2 separate regions of the Homo sapiens genome follow, and region 1 is linked to region 2. The links come from fine-mapping of genetic effects on gene expression. A gene starts in region 2. The other region holds a variant in brackets. All regions are shown on one strand. Distances are between the middles of the regions. Region 1 holds the start of LINC01766 (long intergenic non-protein coding RNA 1766). Region 2 holds the start of UPK1A-AS1 (UPK1A antisense RNA 1).

What was found. PIP is the estimated chance that this variant, and not a neighbour inherited with it, causes the effect. A credible set is the group of variants that fine-mapping cannot tell apart.
Region 1: its variant is the best candidate, but not a certain one, in a credible set for the expression of UPK1A-AS1 in whole blood (TOPMed, PIP 0.89).

Annotation. Positions count from the first base shown.
Region 1 is chr19:35,592,221-35,601,690 of GRCh38, forward strand. It overlaps LINC01766 (long intergenic non-protein coding RNA 1766), which reads left to right and starts at 5,675. Exons shown (of 3, transcript NR_110750.1): 1 at 5,675-5,737; 2 at 8,421-8,534; 3 at 9,085-9,281. RefSeq lists an enhancer at 4,432-4,571. The variant A/C (reference allele first, on the strand shown) is at 4,585.
Region 2 is chr19:35,668,307-35,677,530 of GRCh38, forward strand. UPK1A-AS1 (UPK1A antisense RNA 1) reads right to left here and starts at 4,985. Exons shown (of 2, transcript NR_046420.1): 1 at 4,929-4,985; 2 at 1-379. UPK1A (uroplakin 1A) reads left to right here. Exons shown (of 8, transcript NM_007000.4): 3 at 148-348; 4 at 4,926-5,000; 5 at 5,132-5,239; 6 at 7,534-7,713.

The DNA of each region.
Region 1 (9,470 bases), 76 kb before region 2:
AAGCAGCAACTCTCGGAGTCAAGTACAAGCCACTGTTATGAGCAGCTTCGGAGTATTGATTCTTTTGGTCTCCACACTAACCCTATAGCCTGCATTCTTACAGACTGAGGATAAAGCACAGGGAGCTGGAAAGACACAGTGCAGGTCTCACAGCGAATTCACTGAGGGGCCAGGATTGGGAACCAGGAAATCTGCCACCAAAAGCCGTGTTCTTAAGCACTAGGTGGACAACACTGCCTCCCATCGACCGTTAGTAGCAATTCAATCTTTTTACCTGCTGGAGTCACTTGTTAATCACTTACCTTTCTCTTAACAAATCATTTTTATTTTCGACATAGAAGCTAACTTGAAGGAGCGCCCACTGGCCCAGAGTGGTACAACTTAAACATCAAAAATATTAATAACGGCCAGGCGCGGTGGCTCACTCCTGTAATCCCAGGACTTTGGGAGGCTGAGGCAGGTAAATCAATTGAGGTCAGGAGTTCGAGACCAGCCCGGCCAACATGGTGAAACCTCGTCTCTACTAAAAATATAAAAATTAGCCAGCCGTGGTGACAGTCACCTGTAATCCCAGCTACTCGGGAGGCTGATGCAGGAGAATCGCTTAGAGCTCGGGAGTCGGAGGTTGTAGTGAGCCGAGATGGCGCCATTGCACTCCAGCCTGGGCAACAAGAGCAAAACTCCGTCTCAAATAATAATAATAATAATAATAGTAATAACAATAATAGATTTAAACACACCAAATATATATCATATTTAATGATGAAGGATGGAATACTTTCCCTATAAGATCAACAACAAGGAAAGGATGTCTGCTCTTGACACTCCTATTTGACATAGTGCTGGAAGTTCTAGTCACTGCAAGAAAAAAACGCAAACAGGGCCCGGCGCAGTGGCTGACGTCTGTAATCCTAACACTTTGGGAGGCAGGAGGATCACTTGAGACTAGGATGTCAAGACCAGCCTAGGCAACACAGCATGACCCCATCTCTACAAAAAATATTAAAAAATTAGCCAAGCATGGTGGCACATGCCTGTAGTCCTACCTGCTCAGGGGGCTGAGGCAGGGAGATCACTTGAGCCCAGGACTTTGAGACTGCAGTGAGCTATGATCACACCAACACTGCACTCCAGCCTGAGGAATAGAGTGAGACTCTGTCTCAAAAAAGAAAAAAAGGCATTTAGATTGGAAAGGAAGAAATAAAACTGTATCTGCAGGTGACATGAGATATGTGTGTGTGTGTGTGTCTGTGTGTGTAGTTGATGCAAAAATAATTGCGGTTTTTGCCATTGAAAGGAATGACTGCTGGGCATGGTGGCTCACGCCTGTAATCCCAGCACTTTGGGAGGGTTTTTTTTTTTTTTTTTTTTTTTGAGATGGAGTCTCACTCTGTCACCCAAGCTGGAGTGCAGTGGTGTGGTCTCGGCTCACTGCCAGCTCCGCCTCCCGGGTTCACGCCATTCTCCTGTCTCAGCCTCCCGAGTAGCCGGGACTACAGGCACCCGCCACCACGCCCAGCTAAATTTTTGTATTTTTAGTAGAGACGGGGTTTCACCTTGTTAGCCAGGATGGGCTCGATCTCCTGACCTCGGGATCTGCCCTCCTCAACCTCCCAAAGTGCTGGGATTACAGGCATGAGCCACCGTGCCTGGCGTTTTTCTTTTCGTTTTTTTTTTTTCTTTTTTTTTTTTTTTTGGAGATAGAGTCTCACTCTGTCACCCAGGCTGGAGTGCAGTGGTGTGATCTTGGCTCACTGCAACTTCCACCTCCTGGGTTCAAGCGATTCTCCTGCCTCAGTCTCCCTAGTAGCTGGGATTACAGGCGCCCACCACCATGCCCAGCTAATTTTTGTATTTTTAGTAGAGACGGGGTCTCACCATGTTGGCCAGGCTGGTCTTGAACTCCTGACCTTAGGTGATCCACCTACCTCAGCCTCTCAAAGTGCTGGGATTACAGGCGTGAGCCACAGCCCTGGACGGATGTATTTTCAATACATGTCTTTATAATGCATGTGAAAGCTAACGCATACATGGGAGACAATGAAGGGACCAATATGGTGGAAGTTTTCCATATTCCACTTGAAGTTGCAAAATATTCAATCTAGGTAGACTATAGAATGTTTAAGTGTGTTTACCATAATCCGTAGAGCAATCACTTAAAACTTGCAAAGATATATAGTGAAAATCACAATAAATAAATTAAAATGGAGTACTAAAATAGTATTTGAATAATCCAAAAGAAAGAAGGAAAAGGGAAAACAAGGAACAAAACACAGAAAAGTGGAAATAAAAAACAAATAATAGTAGACCTAAAGCAAAACATACCAATAATCATATTTAAGGCACATGATCTAAACACACAAGTTATAAAATATTTTCATAATGCACTTAAAAAAAAAATAGCCAGAGCCGGGCGCGTTGGCTCACACCTGTAATCCCAGCACTTTGGGAGGCCAAGGCAGGCAGATCACGAGGTCAGGAGACCATCGTGGCCAACAAGGTGAAACCCTGTCTCTACTAAAAATACAAAAATTAGCTGGGCGTGGTGGCGGATGCCTGCAATCCCAGCTACTAGGGAGGCTGAGGCAGGAGAATCGCTTGAACCAGGGAGTCAGAGGTTGCAGTGAGCCGAGATCGCACCACTGCACTCCAGCCTGGCGACAGAGGGAGACTCCATCTCAAAAAAAAAAAATAGCCAGGTTCAAAGGCTCATGCCTGTAATATCAGCACTTCGGGAAGCCGAGGTGGGTGGATCACTTGAGCCCAGGAGTTTGAGATCAGCCTGGAAAACATGGTGAAACTCCGTCTCTACTAAAAATACAAAGAAGTTAGCTGGGTGTGGTGGCACACGCCTATAGTCCCAGCTACTTGGGAGACTGAGGCAGGAGGATAACCTGAGCCCAGGAAGTCGAGGCTGCAGTGAGCCATCATCACATCACTGCACTCCAGCCTGGGTGACAGAGTGAGGCCCTGTCTCAAATAAATACATACATAAATAACTTGAGCCCAGGAGTTCAAGATCAGCCTGGGCAACATAGTGAGACCCCATCTCTGCAAAAAATTTCAAAATTAACCTGGCATGGTGGCTTGCACCTGTAGCCCCAGCTACTCAGAAGTTTGGGGCAGGAGGTTGTTTGAGCCCAGGAGGTCAAGGCTGCAGTGAGCCGTGTTCACACCACTACACTCCAGACTAGCAACAGAACAAAACCTTGTCTTAAAAAAAATAGAAGTAGGCCAGGCGCGGTGGCTCACTCCTGCAATCCCAGCATTTTGGGAGGCCAAGATGGGCTGATCACCTGAGGTCAGGAGTTCGAGACCAGCCTCACTAACATGGTGAAACCCAGTCTCTACTAAGCATACAAAAATTAGCCAGGCATAGTGGCAGGTGCCTGTAATCCCAGCTACTTGGGAGGCTGAGGCAGGAGAATCACTTGAATGCAGGAGGCGGAGGTTGCAGTGAGCCGAGATCACGCCATTGCACTCCAGCCTGAACAACAGAGTGAGACTCTGTCTCAAAAAATAAAAAAATTAAAAACTTAAAAAATAGAAGTAGGCCGGGCGTAATGCCTGTAATCCTAGAACTTTAGGAGGCCAAGGCAGGCGGATCACTTAAGGTCAGGCGTTCGAGACCAGCCTAGTCAACATGGCAGAACCCCGTCTCTACTAAAAATACAAAAAATTAGCCAGGCATGGTGGTGCGCACCTGTAGTCCCAGCTACTCAGGTGGCTGAGGCAGGAGAATCACTTGAACCCAGGAGGCGGAGGTTGCAGTGAGCCAAGATCACATCACCACACTCCAGCCTGGAAGACAGAGCAAGAAGAAAGAAGGAAAAGAAAGAAGAGAAGGAAAAGGAAGAAAAGAGGGAAGGGAAGGGAAAGGGAAAGGGAAAGGGGAAGGGGAAGGGAAGGGGAAAGGGAAAGGGAGGGGAGGGGAAGGGAAGGGGGAAAGAATGAAGGAAAGAAAGGAAAGGAAAGGAAGGAAGAAAAGAAATGATTGTTTGCTTGGTGTTGGAGGGGCTTGAGGGGGTGGGGAAAAAGGGGGGAACCCACACATTTGATCAAAGAACTCTTCTGTGTTGACTGTTGTGGTATGAGAGCAGAGAAAATGCATTGTGTTTTTCCTGAAACACAAGACTCCGAGGCCTACATCACTCTTGCCCCAAGTAGTGCTTTTCTCTCAAGATGCTCAGGAGGAATCTTTAAACAAAGATGATCAAGGAAATGAGGCTTATTTATAGGTCTGTTTTGAAGGTGGAACCAGGGATTCCTCAATTGGCCAATCACTTGAGAGAGTAGAAGGAGCTGTCACCCCATCAAACCAATCAGAAGCCAGGTGTTGGTTCCCACCCTATGACATACCACCTCCAATTGGCCAGTAGAAGTAGAGAGACAGGCTAGGAGGCGGGGCCTGCCTGGCCGCCATGGTAATCCCCTGTGGTTGGTGATCAAGGAAGAGCATAGTGCCAGACCTAGGTGCCCTCCTGGGAATGTTCCAGGAGGGCAGGAGTAGGAGGAGGAGTGTTAGAGTAGAGGGGAAATGATGAGAGCAGAAAGGGTATCATAAAGGAACCTCAGGGGTGATAT[A/C]AGTGGACACAGACATATGTCACAAGGGCACGGGTTTAGAACAGGAAGGCTGTTGTACGTGGTTGGAGAGGGAGTTCAAAGAGTCAGAAAGCTGGTTTCAGAAGTTGAGAGGTGTTAGAGGGAGACAGGGCAGGACTTTGTAAGGTGACAAAGAAGTAGAGACTGAAACCCTGTCTCTACTACAAATACAAAAATTAGCCGGGCGTGGTGGCGGGCGCCTATAGTCCCAGCAAGAGGAGTGAATAGGTGGTCAAATAAGGTCTTAGAGGAGCTAAAGGGGCAGGGAGCTTATGGGCGAACAGGAAAGGTTTACAGCAGGACCCCGCAGGATTCATAGGGACGAAGTAAAGGATATTATAAAAGGAACAGTGAGAGAGCTAACAGAAGTTTTACTTTGGGGGGCAGAGGTGGGAGGATCACCTGAGCCCAGGAATTCAAGACCAGCATGGGCAACATTGTAGCAAAACCCCATCTCTACCAAAAGAAAAAAATTTTTTTTTTTTTTTTTTTTTTTTGAGAGAGTCTCGCTGTGTCACCCAGGCTGGAGTGCAGTGGCAGGATCTTGGCTCACTTCAACCTCCACCTCCCGAGTTCTGCCTCAGCCTCCCAAGTAGCTGGGATTACAGGTGCGTGCCACCACGCCCGGCTAATTTTTGTATTTTTAGTAGAGACGGGGTTTCACTATGTTAGCCAAGGTGGCCTCAAACTCCTGACCTCAGGTGATCCGCCCACCTCGGCCTCCCAAAGTATTGGGATTACAGGCGTCAGCCACCACACCCAGCAAAACAAAAACAAAACAAAACAAAATTTTAGTTAGCTGGGCCTGGTGGTGTGCACCTGTAGTCCCAGCCACTCAGGAAGCTGAGGCAGGAGGATCACTTGAGCCCAGGAGTTTGAGGCTGCACTGAGCTATGATTGTGCCTTTGCACTCCTACAGCCTGGGAGAGAAGACCCTGTCTCTGAAAAAAAAAAAAAAAAAAAAAAAAAAACAGAAGACAAAGAAGTTTTACAGGGTGAGAGTTTTATAAGGGAACAGTGAATTTATAATGAAGGTTTTATACCCAAACACAGGTCCAGTCACTCCACGCTTGCAGAGTCCAATTAACAAGAGCAAGTTCTGGTAGAAAGAAGGTGACTTTATTCCAGAGCTCAGGTGAGGGGAAGAGGTACAGGTTCCTGCCTTAAGGGTATTGCTTCAGCTTTCAGGACAGAAAGCAGGGACTTTTAAAGGGGGGCTTGATGTGAATGACATAAAGGTGGGGGGCAAGGAGGTGTGGGGTCTATGTGACATGCTTTGATGTCTTATCTATCAGGTGTTCTAGCTGTCACCATCGTGAGAAGAGAAATTGACCATTGTCTCAAGGCAATCTGATGGGAGAGAATTCTGGGGGTGCCTGATTTGTTTCAAGGTTCAGTCCCTGGAACTTCTAAGTAAACATATTGTTAGATAAGCTTGCCATGTAGGGAGGTTACAGTTGCATTCCTAAAGAGTTAAGTAGGAGATGGGGGGAAAAGAAAAAGGAAAAAAATCCTTTTTTTTCTTTAAAAATGGGGTACTCTGGCCAGGCACAGTGGCTCAAACCTGTAATCCCAGCACTTTGGGAAGCTGAGGCAGGCAGATCACAAGGTCGGAAGTTCAAGACCAGCCTGGCCAACACAGTGAAACCCCGTCTCTACTAAAAATACAAAAATTAGCCGGGCGTGGTGGCAGGTGCCTGTAGTCCCAGCTACTTGGGAGGCTGAGGCAGGAGAATCGCTTCAACCCACAAGGCGGAGGTTGCAGCTGAGCTCACGCCACTGCACTCCAGCCTGGGCGACACAGCAAGACTTTGTCTCAAAAAAAAAAAATGTGGTACTCAATTACAGTTTCCCACTGTCAAATTCCATTCCATTTCTATGGGATTTGGATGCCACATTCATGCTGGCTACTTCCTGCTGAAAGAGGGCATTGTGATTAGTCATCAGAATGGAACCGATCCACTTGGAGTTGGAAATATTTATGAGTAGTTGGACCAATATGGTGTAAGGTCTGGAAAGTCTCTGGGGAAGTCTGTCTTGCATTCCCATATAGAAGGTGAAACAGCAGAAAAATCCACAGCAGAGAAGTATGTCTATCATTGCAACTAGGGCCAAAGTTGTAAATAGCTTCTTTCCAGGTGAGAACAGTCCTCACCTGCAACAGGATGCCAACCATTGACCTGGTGATAATGTGGGGTCAGACATAGCTTTGATTTTTAGGTGCATGTCTCTCAGGGCTATTGAGACATTTACTGAATTATCTGAGATGTGTACACAGCATTTAGTCTTAATTGTCAGGCACATTCCCAGCTGTCAATTGTACCTGGAGCTCCTGTGGAGATATGATGACAGGGTGGTTAAACACATATATTTAACAGGTTACAAGAGGAGCTATGGGCCGGGCGTGGTGGCTCACGCCTGTAATCCCAGCACTTTGGGAGGCCGAGGTGGGAGGATCACTCAAGGCCAGGAGTTCAAGACTAGCCTGGCCAACTACCAGACCGATGAACTCAGTCTCTACTAAAAATACAAAAATTAGCGGGCATAGTGGTGCACACCTGTAATCCCGGCTCCTCAAGTGGCTGAGGCATAAGAATTGCCTGAGCCCAGGAGGCAGAGGCTGCAGTGAGGCGAGATCGTGCCACTGCCCTCCAGCCTGGGTGACATAGTGAGACTTTGTCTCAAAAATAAAAAATAAGTAAATAAGAAAGGGCTGGGTGTGGTGGCTCATGCCTGTAATCCCAGCACTTTGGGAGGCCAAGGCAGGTGGGTCACCTGAGGTCAGGAGTTCAAGACCAGCCTGGCCAACATGGTGAAACCCCAACTCTACTAAAAATACAAAAATTAGCTGGGCATGGTAGCACATGCCTGTAATCCCAACTACTCAGGAGGCTGAGGCACGAGAACTGCTTGAACCCAGGAGGCAGAGGTTGCAGTGAGCTGAGATCACACCATTGTACTCCAGCCTGGAGAAAAGACTGAGACTCTGTCTCAGTAAATAAATAAGAGCGATACAGAGGCCAGGCATGGTGGTTCACACCTATAATCCTAGCACTTTGAAAGATCAAGGCAGAAGGATCATTTAAGGCCAGGAGTTCACGACAAGCCTGGGCAACATAATGAGATTCCATCTCTACAACAACAACAAAAATCAAAAATTAGCTGGGTGTGGTGGTTTGTACCAGCTACGTGGGAGGCTGAGGCAGGAGGATTGCTTGAGCCCAGGAGTTCGAGGCTGCAGTGAACTGTGATCATGCCAGTGCACTTCAGCCTGAGTGAGAGAGCAAGACCTTGTCTCAAAAAATAAAAGGGATTTGCCGGGCGCGGTGGCTCACGCCTGTAATCCCAGCACTTTGGGAGGCTGAGACAGGTGGATCACGAGGTCAGGAGATTGAGACCATCCTGGCTAACACGGTGAAACCCCGTCTCTACTAAAAATACAAAAAATTAGCCAGGCGTGGTAGCGGGCGCCTGTAGTCCCAGCTACTCGGGAGGCTGAGGCAGGAGAATGGCATGAACCTGGGAGGCAGAGCTTGCAGTGAGCCAAGATCGCACCACTGCACTCTAGCCTGGATGACAGAGCGAGATTCCGTCTCAAAAAAATAAATAAATAAAATAAAAAATAAAAAAAAGGGATAGAGAGAGGTTAGAGGAGACATGGTGGGGGTTAGAGAAAGTCAATGAGAATTTTAAATGGGGTCAATGAAGATCATATAGCTGCCAAGGAGAGATGTGTTAGGGTAAGTAGGGAGAGAGTGAGAAAGGATTGTTAGAGTTCAGAAGCCATAGTGAGACATAACCAACTCTCTGCCCCCCAGGTGTTTGAACTGATGTCTGATGAGGATGAATCCAGCGACTACCTCTGCCTGTCCATCCTGGGCCTCTTCTGTTGCCTTCCCCTAGCCATCCCAGCCGTGATCTTTTCTTGCCTGGTGGGCACCTGCATCATGCCAATCCTTCACCCTCCCTCTCCATCTTGCCCCTGACCCTGACTCAACTTCTTCCTTGTTCTCCCTTCTGAACTAGGAGCCTGAGCAACACCAGCACCTCCTGTGGGTTCAGACCCCCACCCTGAGTCCTTACAGTTCCACAGCCCACCCTCACCCAACAACTGTTTTTTTTTTTTTTGAAACAGAGTCTCGCTCTGTCACCCAAGCTGGAGTGCAGTGGTGAGATCTCAGCTCACCGCAACCTCCATCTCGCAGGTTCAAACAATTATCCTGCCTCAGCTTCCTGAGTAGCTGGGATTAGAGGCGCCCACCAACACGCCTGGCTAATTTTCGTATTTTTGGTGGAGCTGGGTTTCACCATGTTGGCCAGGCTGGTCTTGAACACCTGACCTCAGGTGATCTGCCCACCTCAGCTTCCCAAAGTGCTGGGATTACAGGCATGAGCCACCATGCCCGGCCACGCAATAACTCTTTTATACTCATCTTTCCCTGTTCCCTCTCTCCTAAAACTCAGACAAAGTTTGTATTGTAGACAAAGAACTACAATAAATCCAGTGACTATGAGCTGGCAGCCAAGACCTCCAAACAAGCCTACTACTGGGCCATCGCGAGCATCACTGTGGGAATCTTAGGTACCATCTTGTACACCTACCTGATATACTTACTTAGATTGTAAACTGCTTCCCAGCTCTTGAACAAACCACCAAATATACACCACAGTGCAATTTACCTTGGCTCTAAGCATCTACTTGGGCTGAATGGAACACCTGCTCCTCAATGTCTGGAGTGCCAAGCTATCTAAGATTAGAAAAACAAAATGCAAAGTGTTCTTCCTATTCTTACATGCCCCTCAAAGTAACACTTCTTTTTTTTTTTTTTTTTTTGACAGAGTCTTCCTCTGTCCAGGCTGGAGTGCAG
Region 2 (9,224 bases):
ATCGCTGCTCATGGAAGGCGAGGTCTTTGCCCACTTTACTGAGAGGGCAGTGGAGGCTCCAAATGGGGAGGGAACTTGCTCGTGGAGATGCCTGGTGCCAGGGCTGCTGGCCCCGAGCAGACCTTCCTAACCCACCGCTCTGTCCAGCTGTCAGGCCTGTCCCTGTTTGCTGAGACCATATGGGTGACAGCCGACCAGTACCGTGTATACCCACTGATGGGAGTCTCAGGCAAGGATGACGTCTTCGCTGGTGCCTGGATTGCCATCTTCTGCGGCTTCTCCTTCTTCATGGTAGCCAGTTTTGGTGTGGGTGCCGCACTCTGCCGCCGCCGGTCCATGGTCCTCACGGTGAGACTCCAGGGGTTGGGGGATGGGGACACTGAAAACGGAGTTCAGCATCACTGAGTCATAGTAGCAGGTGCAGCCCCAGCCACTAGTGTGAGTTCCCCATGGTGTCACACTCAGGGATCCCAGGCATCATCTCATTCAGTCTTCCCACAGCCCAATAACCCAGGCTTGAGTAGCAGAGCTGGGATTTTTTCTTTTTTTTTTTTTTGGTAAAGATGGGGGTCTCACTATGTTGCCCAGGCTGGTCTCAAACTCCTGGCTCAAATGATTCTCCTGCCTCAGCCTCCCAAAGTGCTGGGATTACAGGCTTGAGCCCCTCTACCTGCACCCAGTGCAGGGCTAGAATTTGAACCCCTGCTAGCTGCTTTCCAGAGTCCATGCTCATGAACTCTGCCAATAATAGCACAGCTACCATTTAATAATGGTTTACTACAAGCCACGAGCTGTTCTAAATGGTTTACTGGATTAGTTCATTTATTCCTCATAGTCCACCAAGAGATACTGTCATCATCATGACCCTGTTTGATGAAGATTGAAACTGAGGCTCAGAGAAGTGAAGTCACTTATCCAGGGTCACACATTGAGACAATGGCAGAGCCAGTTTCAACCTGAGCAGATCGGCTCTTGAGGCTGTGCTCTTAATCTCTGCCCACAAGAATAACCCATACTTCCCAAGTGTCTCTCATGCACCTGACACTAGGGTAAGCAGTTTAGAAAATGAGCTTCGTGGCCAGGCGCAGTGGCTCATGCCTGTAATCCCAGCACGTGGGGAGGCTGAGGCGGACAGATCATTTGAGGTCGGGAGTCCAAGACCAGACTGGCCAACATGGCGAAATCCCATCTCTAAAAAAAAAAAAAAAAAAAAAATTAGCCACGCATGGTGGCAGGCACCTGTAATCCCCGCTACTCAGGAGGCTGGGGCGGAAGAATCACTAGAACCCGGGAGGCAGAGGTTGCAGTGAGCCAAGATCACACCACTGCATTCCAGCCTGGATGACAAAGCGAGACTCCATCTCAAAAAAAAGGAAAGAAAATGAGCTTCCTCAATCTTGCCAGAAGCCCTTCACAGCTAGTGCTTTTCAACCCATTTACCAGATGAGGAAACTGAGGCTCAAAGAGGCTAACAGCCTCTCCCAGGTGACCAGGAGAGCAGGGATTCCAATTCACGGCCCCAATGACACAGAGACAGCACTGTGTTTCCTCGACAGCAGAGGGTTTTTCAGATTCCCAGAAGCAGCCACTCATTTGATGAACAAATGCTTATGAGCAGGAGCTACATGCTGAGCCCTACGCTGGGCACTGGGGCTCTGTGCTGAGCGAAACATAAAAGCCCTTGACCCAGGGAAGTGGTGCTCAGAGGAGGAAGACAGTGAACAGGAGGGGAGGTCAGGAGCCGAGGAGGGCGAGGGAAGACCTCACTGCCAGGGAAAGCAAAGACCTAGAGGCACTGGGAGCGAGGCAGGTGTGTAACTGGAGGAAGAGCCTTCCAGGTGGAGGTGGCAGCAAGGGCAAAGGCTCTGAGGCCAGAGCGGGCCAGGAGTCCAAAGCAGCTGGAGCTGAGTGAGGAGGAGGTTGGGGGGTGAGAGGACATGAGGCAGACAGATGGGGAGGAGAACAGTGAGGAATGGGGATGGGAAAGAAGCAGGAGGGAAGGCAGGTGTTGTGGACTTTGGCTTTATCCTGAGTAAGATGGACCCATAGACCCCCTGCTCCCCTCCCCTCCCTTCCCCTCCCCTTCCCTCCCCTCCCCTCTCCTTCCTTCCTTCCTTCGTTTTTCTACACAGGCAGGTGTTGTGGACTTTGGCTTTATCCTGAGTAAGATGGAGCCATGGACTCCTCCCCTCCCCTCCCCTCCCCTCGCCTCCTCTCCCCTCCCCTCCCCTCCTTTCCCCTCCCCTCCCCTCCTCTCCCCTCCCCACCTCCCTCCTTCCTTCCTTCATTTTTCTAGACAGGCAGGTATTGTGGACTTTGGCTTTATCCTGGGTACGATGGAGCCATGGACTTCCTTCCCTTCCTTCTTTCCCTCCCTCCCTCCCTCCCTCCCTCCCTTCCTTCCTTCCTTCCTTTCTTTGTTTCTCTAGACAGGGTCTCACTCTGTTGCCCAGTTTGGAGTGCAGTGGCACAATCATAGCTCATTGCCACCTCGAACTCTTCATCTCAAATGATCCTCCCACCTCAGCCTCCCAATGAGCTGGGACTACAAGTGTGCATCACCATGTGCAGCTAATTTTTGTATTTTTTGTAGAGATGGAGTCTCACTATGGTGCCCAGGCTGGTCTCCAACTCCTGGCCTCAAGTGAGCCTCCCACCTCAGCCTCCCAAAGTGTTGGAATTACAGGCATGAGCCACCACACCTGCCCTCTTATTTTCTTATCCTGTATTTAATTATCTGGCATAACAATTTAACCAAAGCCCTAAAAAGTCACCCAACTAGTTTTAAAAATTGTGTCTGGGCCGGGCTCGGTGGCTCACGCCTGTAATCCCAGCAGTTTGGGAGGCCGAGGCAGGTGGATCACAAGGTCAGGAGATCGAGACCTTCCTGGCTAACACGGTGAAATCCCGTCTTTACTAAAAAACAAAAAATTAACCAGGCGTGGTGGCGGGCGCCTGTAGTCCCAGCTACTCGGGAGGCTGAGGCAGGAGAATGGCGTGAACCCGGGAGGCGCAGCTTGCAGTGAGCAGAGATCGCGCCACTGCACTCCAGCCTGGGCGACAGAGCAAGACTCTGTCTCAAAAAAAAAAAAAAATTGTGTCTGTTTCCCCATTAGTTTGTCATTAACTAAGACATTTTCTCCCCAAATTTCTTTTTTTTTTTTTTTTTGAGACGGAGTCTTGCTCAGTTGCCCAGGCTGGAGTGCAGTGGTGCGATCTCGGCTCACTGCAAGCTCCGCCTCCCGGGTTCACGCCATTCTCCTGCCTCAGCCTCCCGAGTAGCTGGGACTACAGGCACCTGCCACCACGCCTGGTTAATTTTTTTTTTTGTATTTTTAGTAGAGATGGGGTTTCGCCGTGTTAGCCAGGATGGTCTCGATCTCCTGACCTCGTGATCCGCCCACCTCGGCTTCCCAAAGTGCTGAGATTACAGGCATGAGCCACCGTGCCCGGCCCCCAAATTTCTTACAGGAAATTTCTAAAGTAGACTAGAGTCCGCAGTATTTGAGCCCTGCATACCTCTCACCTGATTTCAACAACATCAGCTGCAGACTGCCCGACATTGTCTCCTCTATCCCCCTTCTCTCATACTTTTTCTTCTGGGTATTTTGAAGCACATTCTAGATGCCAAGTCACTTGCCTGTAAATACTGGAGCACACATTTCTCTGAGTGATAAGCACATTGTTTTAAAGCAGTCAGGAGGTTGTGCAATGTCATCCATCTCCCAGCAGCAGAGTTCACACATCCACACGCAACCTCCTGCTGCTTTATAGATGAAGGTGCCAGGTGAGGACATGAAAAGAATTTGCATTAAACATCAACTGACAAGCTTTTTTTTTTCTCCTGCCCTCTGTGCCGTTGGCACAACCCACCAAATTCAATCAAGTTCTTCTATATCTTCCAATACCCAGTCTGTGTCAAATGTCTCTGATTATCTGAGAACATCGTTTTATGTTGTTTGTTTTATTTTAAGAGACAGGGTCTCACTCTGTTGCCCAGGCTGGAGTGTAATGGCACAATCTCGGCTCATTGCAACCTCTGCCTCCTGGGTTCAAGCTATTCTCCTATCTCATCCTCCTGAGTAGCTGGGATTACAGGCACCCATCACCATGCCCAGCTAATTTTTGTATTTTTGCATTTTTAGTAGATGGGGTTTCACCATATTGGTCAGGCTGGTCTTGAACTCCTGACCTCAGGTGATCCACCCGTCTCAACCTCCCAAAGTGTTGGGATTACAGGCGTAAGCCACTGCACCCACCCTTGTTTGTTTTGTTTTAAGAGACAGGGTTTTGCTCTGTTGCCCAGGCAGGAATGCAGTGGTGCGATCATAGCTCGCTGAGGCCTCCAACTACTGGGCTCAAACGATCCTCCAACCTCAGCCTCCCAAATAGCTAGGACTAACACTACCACTAGTAGTAACTATGCTTAACTAATTTTTTTATTTTTATTTTTTGTAGCGACGGGGTCTCACTGTGTTGCCCAGGCTGATCTTGAACTCCAGGGTTCAAGCAATCTTCCCATCTCAGCCTCCCAAAGTGCTGGGATTACAGGTGTGAGCCACCAATGCCCAGCCCTAATTTTTGTATTTTTAGTAGAGAAGGGGTTTCACCATGTTGGCCAGGCTGGTCTCGAACTCCTGACTCAGGTGATCGCCCCCTCGGCCTCCCAAAGTGCTGGGATTATAGGCGTGAGCCACCACGCCTCGCCTGTCTCAAAAATAAATTAATTAAATTAAATATTTCAAAATACAGAAAAGTTGGAAGACAATACAGCGAACACCTGAACACCCACCACATATTATAGATGCTGCTAGTCACACTGCCCCAAACTTTTTTAAAACTTGCATTTCCCCAGTGATGCTTCCCTGACGGGGTGTGGCTTCACGGGCTCTGCCCGACGGGCCGTCCTCCCTCTGTCTCCCCAGTACCTGGTGCTCATGCTCATCGTCTACATCTTCGAGTGCGCCTCCTGCATCACGTCCTACACCCACCGTGACTACGTGAGCCCGGCGAGGCCTGGGGAGGGGCCTGACCTGCATGGGAGGGGCGAGGGTCCCGGCGCGGCGGGGCGGAGGTCGTCCTCTCTCCCCACCCAGCCCTGCCGGCCCTTGTTCTTCCCTGTTCTCCTCAGATGGTGTCCAACCCATCCCTGATCACCAAGCAGATGCTGACCTTCTACAGCGCGGACACCGACCAGGGCCAGGAGCTGACCCGCCTCTGGGACCGCGTCATGATTGAGGTGGGCGGGGTGGACCGGGTGCTGGGAGGGCCCTGGGCTCCGTCCACAGAGGCCGATAGAGCTCCCGATGTGCCAGCTTTTAGAGGAGTGAGTGCCTTAAAGACATCCGCTCATGAGATCTCTAGGAGAGCAGGGCTGCGGTCATCACCGTTCTGCGGATGAGTAAACAGGCCCAGAAAGGGAAAGTCCCTTGCCCGAGGCCACACAGTCGGTAAGTGGTGGGAGCTGGGATTGGAACCCGGCAGCCTAGCTCCTGACCTCCCTGCTCTTAGCCTACACATACTACCTCAACAGAAATGTTGATAATAACAATGATAGTAACAGCACCATTCACTGAGCTAGGTTTCACACTGTTCAAAGGACTTTTATTTTTATATTTTGAGATGGGGTCTTGCTCTGTTGCCCAGGCTGGAGTGATCATAGCTCACTGCAACCTCCAACTCCTGGGCTCAAGTGATCCTCCCGCCTCAGCTTCCCGAGTAGCTGGGAATACAGGTGCGCCCCACCACACCCGGCTAAGTTTTTTAAATTATCTTTTGTGGAGATGGGGGTCTTGCTCTATTGCCCAGGCTGGTCTGGAACTCCTGGGCTCAGGATTGGAGCGATTCTCCCACCTCCGCCTCTCAAAGTGCCGAGATCACAGGCATGAGCCACGAGTGCCTGGCCTCAAAGCACATTTTTTTTTTTCTTTTTATCTTTTTTTTTTTTTTTTTTTTTTTGAGACAGAGTCTTGCTCTGTCGCCCAGGCTGGAATGCAGTGGCGCGATCTCGGCTCACTGCAAGCTCCGCCTCCCGGGTTCACGCTATTCTCCTGCCTCAGCCTCCCGAATAGCTGGGACTACAGGCGCCTGCCACCGCGCCCAGCTGATTTTTTGTATTTTTAGTAGAGATGGGTGTTAGCCAGGATGGTCTTGATCTCCTGACCTTGTGATCCACCTGCCTCGGCCTCCCAAAGTGCTGGGATTACAGGCTTGAGCCACCGTGCCCAGCCTTTCAAAGCACTTTTAAAGCTTTTTTAATCCTCACGACCACTCCATAAGGGAGATCGGCCTTTTAGTGATGAGGAGACCAAAGCAAGAGGTTGAATATCTTGCATGAGGTCACACACCTGGTAGGTCACAGAACTGGAAGGATTCAAACTCAGACTTCCAGGTTTGAAGAGATACAGTCTTCCTCAAATCCAACATGATATTGCACTGGAAAAGGAAGAAATTGGCTGGGTGCAGTGGCTCAAACCTATAATCCCAACACTTTGGGAGGCAAAGGCGGGCAGATCACTTGAGTTCAGGGGTTCAAGACCATCCTGGCCAACATGGTGAAACCCTGTCTCTACAAAAAATACAAAAATTAGTCAGGTGTAGTAGTGTGCGCCTGTGATTCCAGCTACTTGGGAGGCTGAGGCAGGAGAATCACTTGAACCCAGGAGGGGGAGGTTGCAGTGAGCCAAGATGGCGCCACTGTACTCCAGCCTGGACAACAGAGGGAGACTCCGTCTCAAAAAAAAAAAAAAAAAAGAAGAAGAAATTGAGGACTCAAGGAAAACTGAGGCGTCAATGTGGCCCAAGTCCTCTAGCTAGCCAGGATTTGAACCCATGTTTGAAGGGTGCCCAAGCCTATGTTTTCCTCATTCAGGAGCCACAAATTAAACACCTGGATTCCTTACCAAGGCCAGGAAAAGCCAGAAATCTGCCCTTTTTGTGTTATTTTATCAGCATAGTTGTTGATAAAAATATTTTATTTTATTTTATTTTTTGAGATGGAGTTTCATTCTTGATTCCCAGGCTGGAGTGCAGTGGCACGATCTTGGCTCACTGCAGTCGCCACCTCCCGGATTCAAGCAATTCTCCTGCCCCAGCCTCTCAAGTAGCTGGGATTACAGGCGCCCACCACCACACCCGGCAAATTTTGTATTTTTAGTAGAGACGGGGTTTCATCATGTTGGTCAGGCTGGTCTCGAACTCCTGACCTCAGGTGATCCATCCACCTCGGCCTCCCAGAGAGCTGGGATTACAGGCGTGAGACACCGTGCCCGGCAAAAATATTTTAAAATAAGTCAGAGGTGCAGGTTTAATCCAAATCCCCCATCAGCCTCCTGGTCCTGGGACAAATATTGTCTGCACCGTGCTCACACACACAGACACCCACCGGACACACTCGCTTGGAGGCCCAGGACATGGGGAAGTTGGGCCCAGCTGTGTCAAAGGCCAATCCTGCCCCTCCTTGCTGTGTGACCTCAGGCAAGCAACTGTCCTCTCTGAGCCCGAGCCTGCCTGACCCCCTGCTTTTCACTCTAGCAAGAATGCTGTGGCACATCTGGTCCCATGGACTGGGTGAACTTCACGTCAGCCTTCCGGGCGGCCACTCCGGAGGTGGTGTTCCCCTGGCCCCCACTGTGCTGTCGCCGGACGGGAAACTTCATCCCCCTCAACGAGGAGGGCTGCCGCCTGGGGCACATGGACTACCTGTTCACCAAGGTGTGGCCGTCTGCCCTGCTCCATCTGTCTATCCATCTGTCTGTCTTCCTCTGGTCTCTGCTCCCTCTCTGATTCTCTCTTTCTCCCTCCCTGTGTCTGTCCGTCTAGCTTTTTCCCTCTCCTCTTCCCCTCTCTGATTTTCTTGTTTTCTTTTTCTTTCTTTCTTTCTTTCTTTCTTTTTTTTTTTTCAAGACCGAGTCCTGCTCTGTCACCCAGGCTGGAGTACAGTGGCACAATCTCAGCTCACTGCAGCGTCTGCCTCCCGGGTTCAAGGGATTCTCCCACCTCAGCTTCCAGAGCAGCTGGGATTACAGGTGCGCACCACCCTCTTGGCTAGTTTTTGTATTTTTAGCAGAGACGGGGTTTGACCATGTTGTCCAGGCTGGTCTCGAACTCCTGAGCTCAAGTGATCCACCCACCTCAGCCTCCCAAAGTGCTCAGATTACAGGCGTGAGCCACCACGCTGGGTCCCCTCTCTGATTTTCTAGTGCTCCCCCAACTCTCTCTCAAGTCAGCAGGATGCACCCAGGGTCTGTCTGAACCAGACCTGGCACCTACAACTTTACTCAGGTTGTCCGAGAATAAGAGCAATAATAGGGCCGGGCGCGATGGCTCATGCCTGTAATCTCAGCACTTTGGGAGGCTGAGGAGGGCAGATCACTTGAGGTCAAGAGTTCGAGACCAGCCTGACCAACATGGCGAAACCCCATCTCTACTAAAAATGCAAAAATTAGCCCAGAGCAGTAGCACGTGCCTGTAATCCCAGCTACTCGGGAGGCTGAGGTAGGAGAATCACTTGAACTCTGGAGGTGAAGGTTGCAGTGAGCCGAGATTGTGCCACTGCACCCCAGCCTGGGCGACAGAGTGAAACTCCATCTCAAACAAAAAAAAACAAAACAAAACATCAAACAAAACAATAGAGCTAGGCACGGGGGCTCACGACTGTAATCCCAGTACTTTGGGAGGCCAAGGCAGGAGCATCACTTGAGGTCAGAAGCTCAAGACCAGCCTGGGCAACATATCAAGACCCCGTCTCTACAAAAAAGTACAGAAAATTAGCCAGGCGTGGTGGTGCGCGCCTGTAATCCCAGCTACTGGGGAGGCTAAGGCAGGAGGATTGTTTGAGTCTAGGAGGTCAAGGCTGCAGAGAGCTGTGATGGTGCCACTGCACTCTAGCCTAGGCAAGAGACTTAAAAAAGGCAAGAGACTTTAAAAAAAAAAAGGCCGGGCGCGCACAGTGGCTCATGCCTGTAATCCCAGCACTTTGGGAGACCGAGATGGGAGGATCACAAGATCAGGAGTTCGAGACCAGCCTGACCAACATGGTGAAACCCCGTCTCTACTAAAAATACAAAAATTAGCCGGGCGTAGTGGTGCACACCTGTAATCCCAGCTACTCAGGAGGCTGAGGCAGGAGAATTGCTTGAACGCGGGAGGTAAAGGTTTCAGTGAGCCGAGATCATGCCACTGCACTGTAGCCTGGGTGACAGAGGGAGACTGCGAGACTGTCT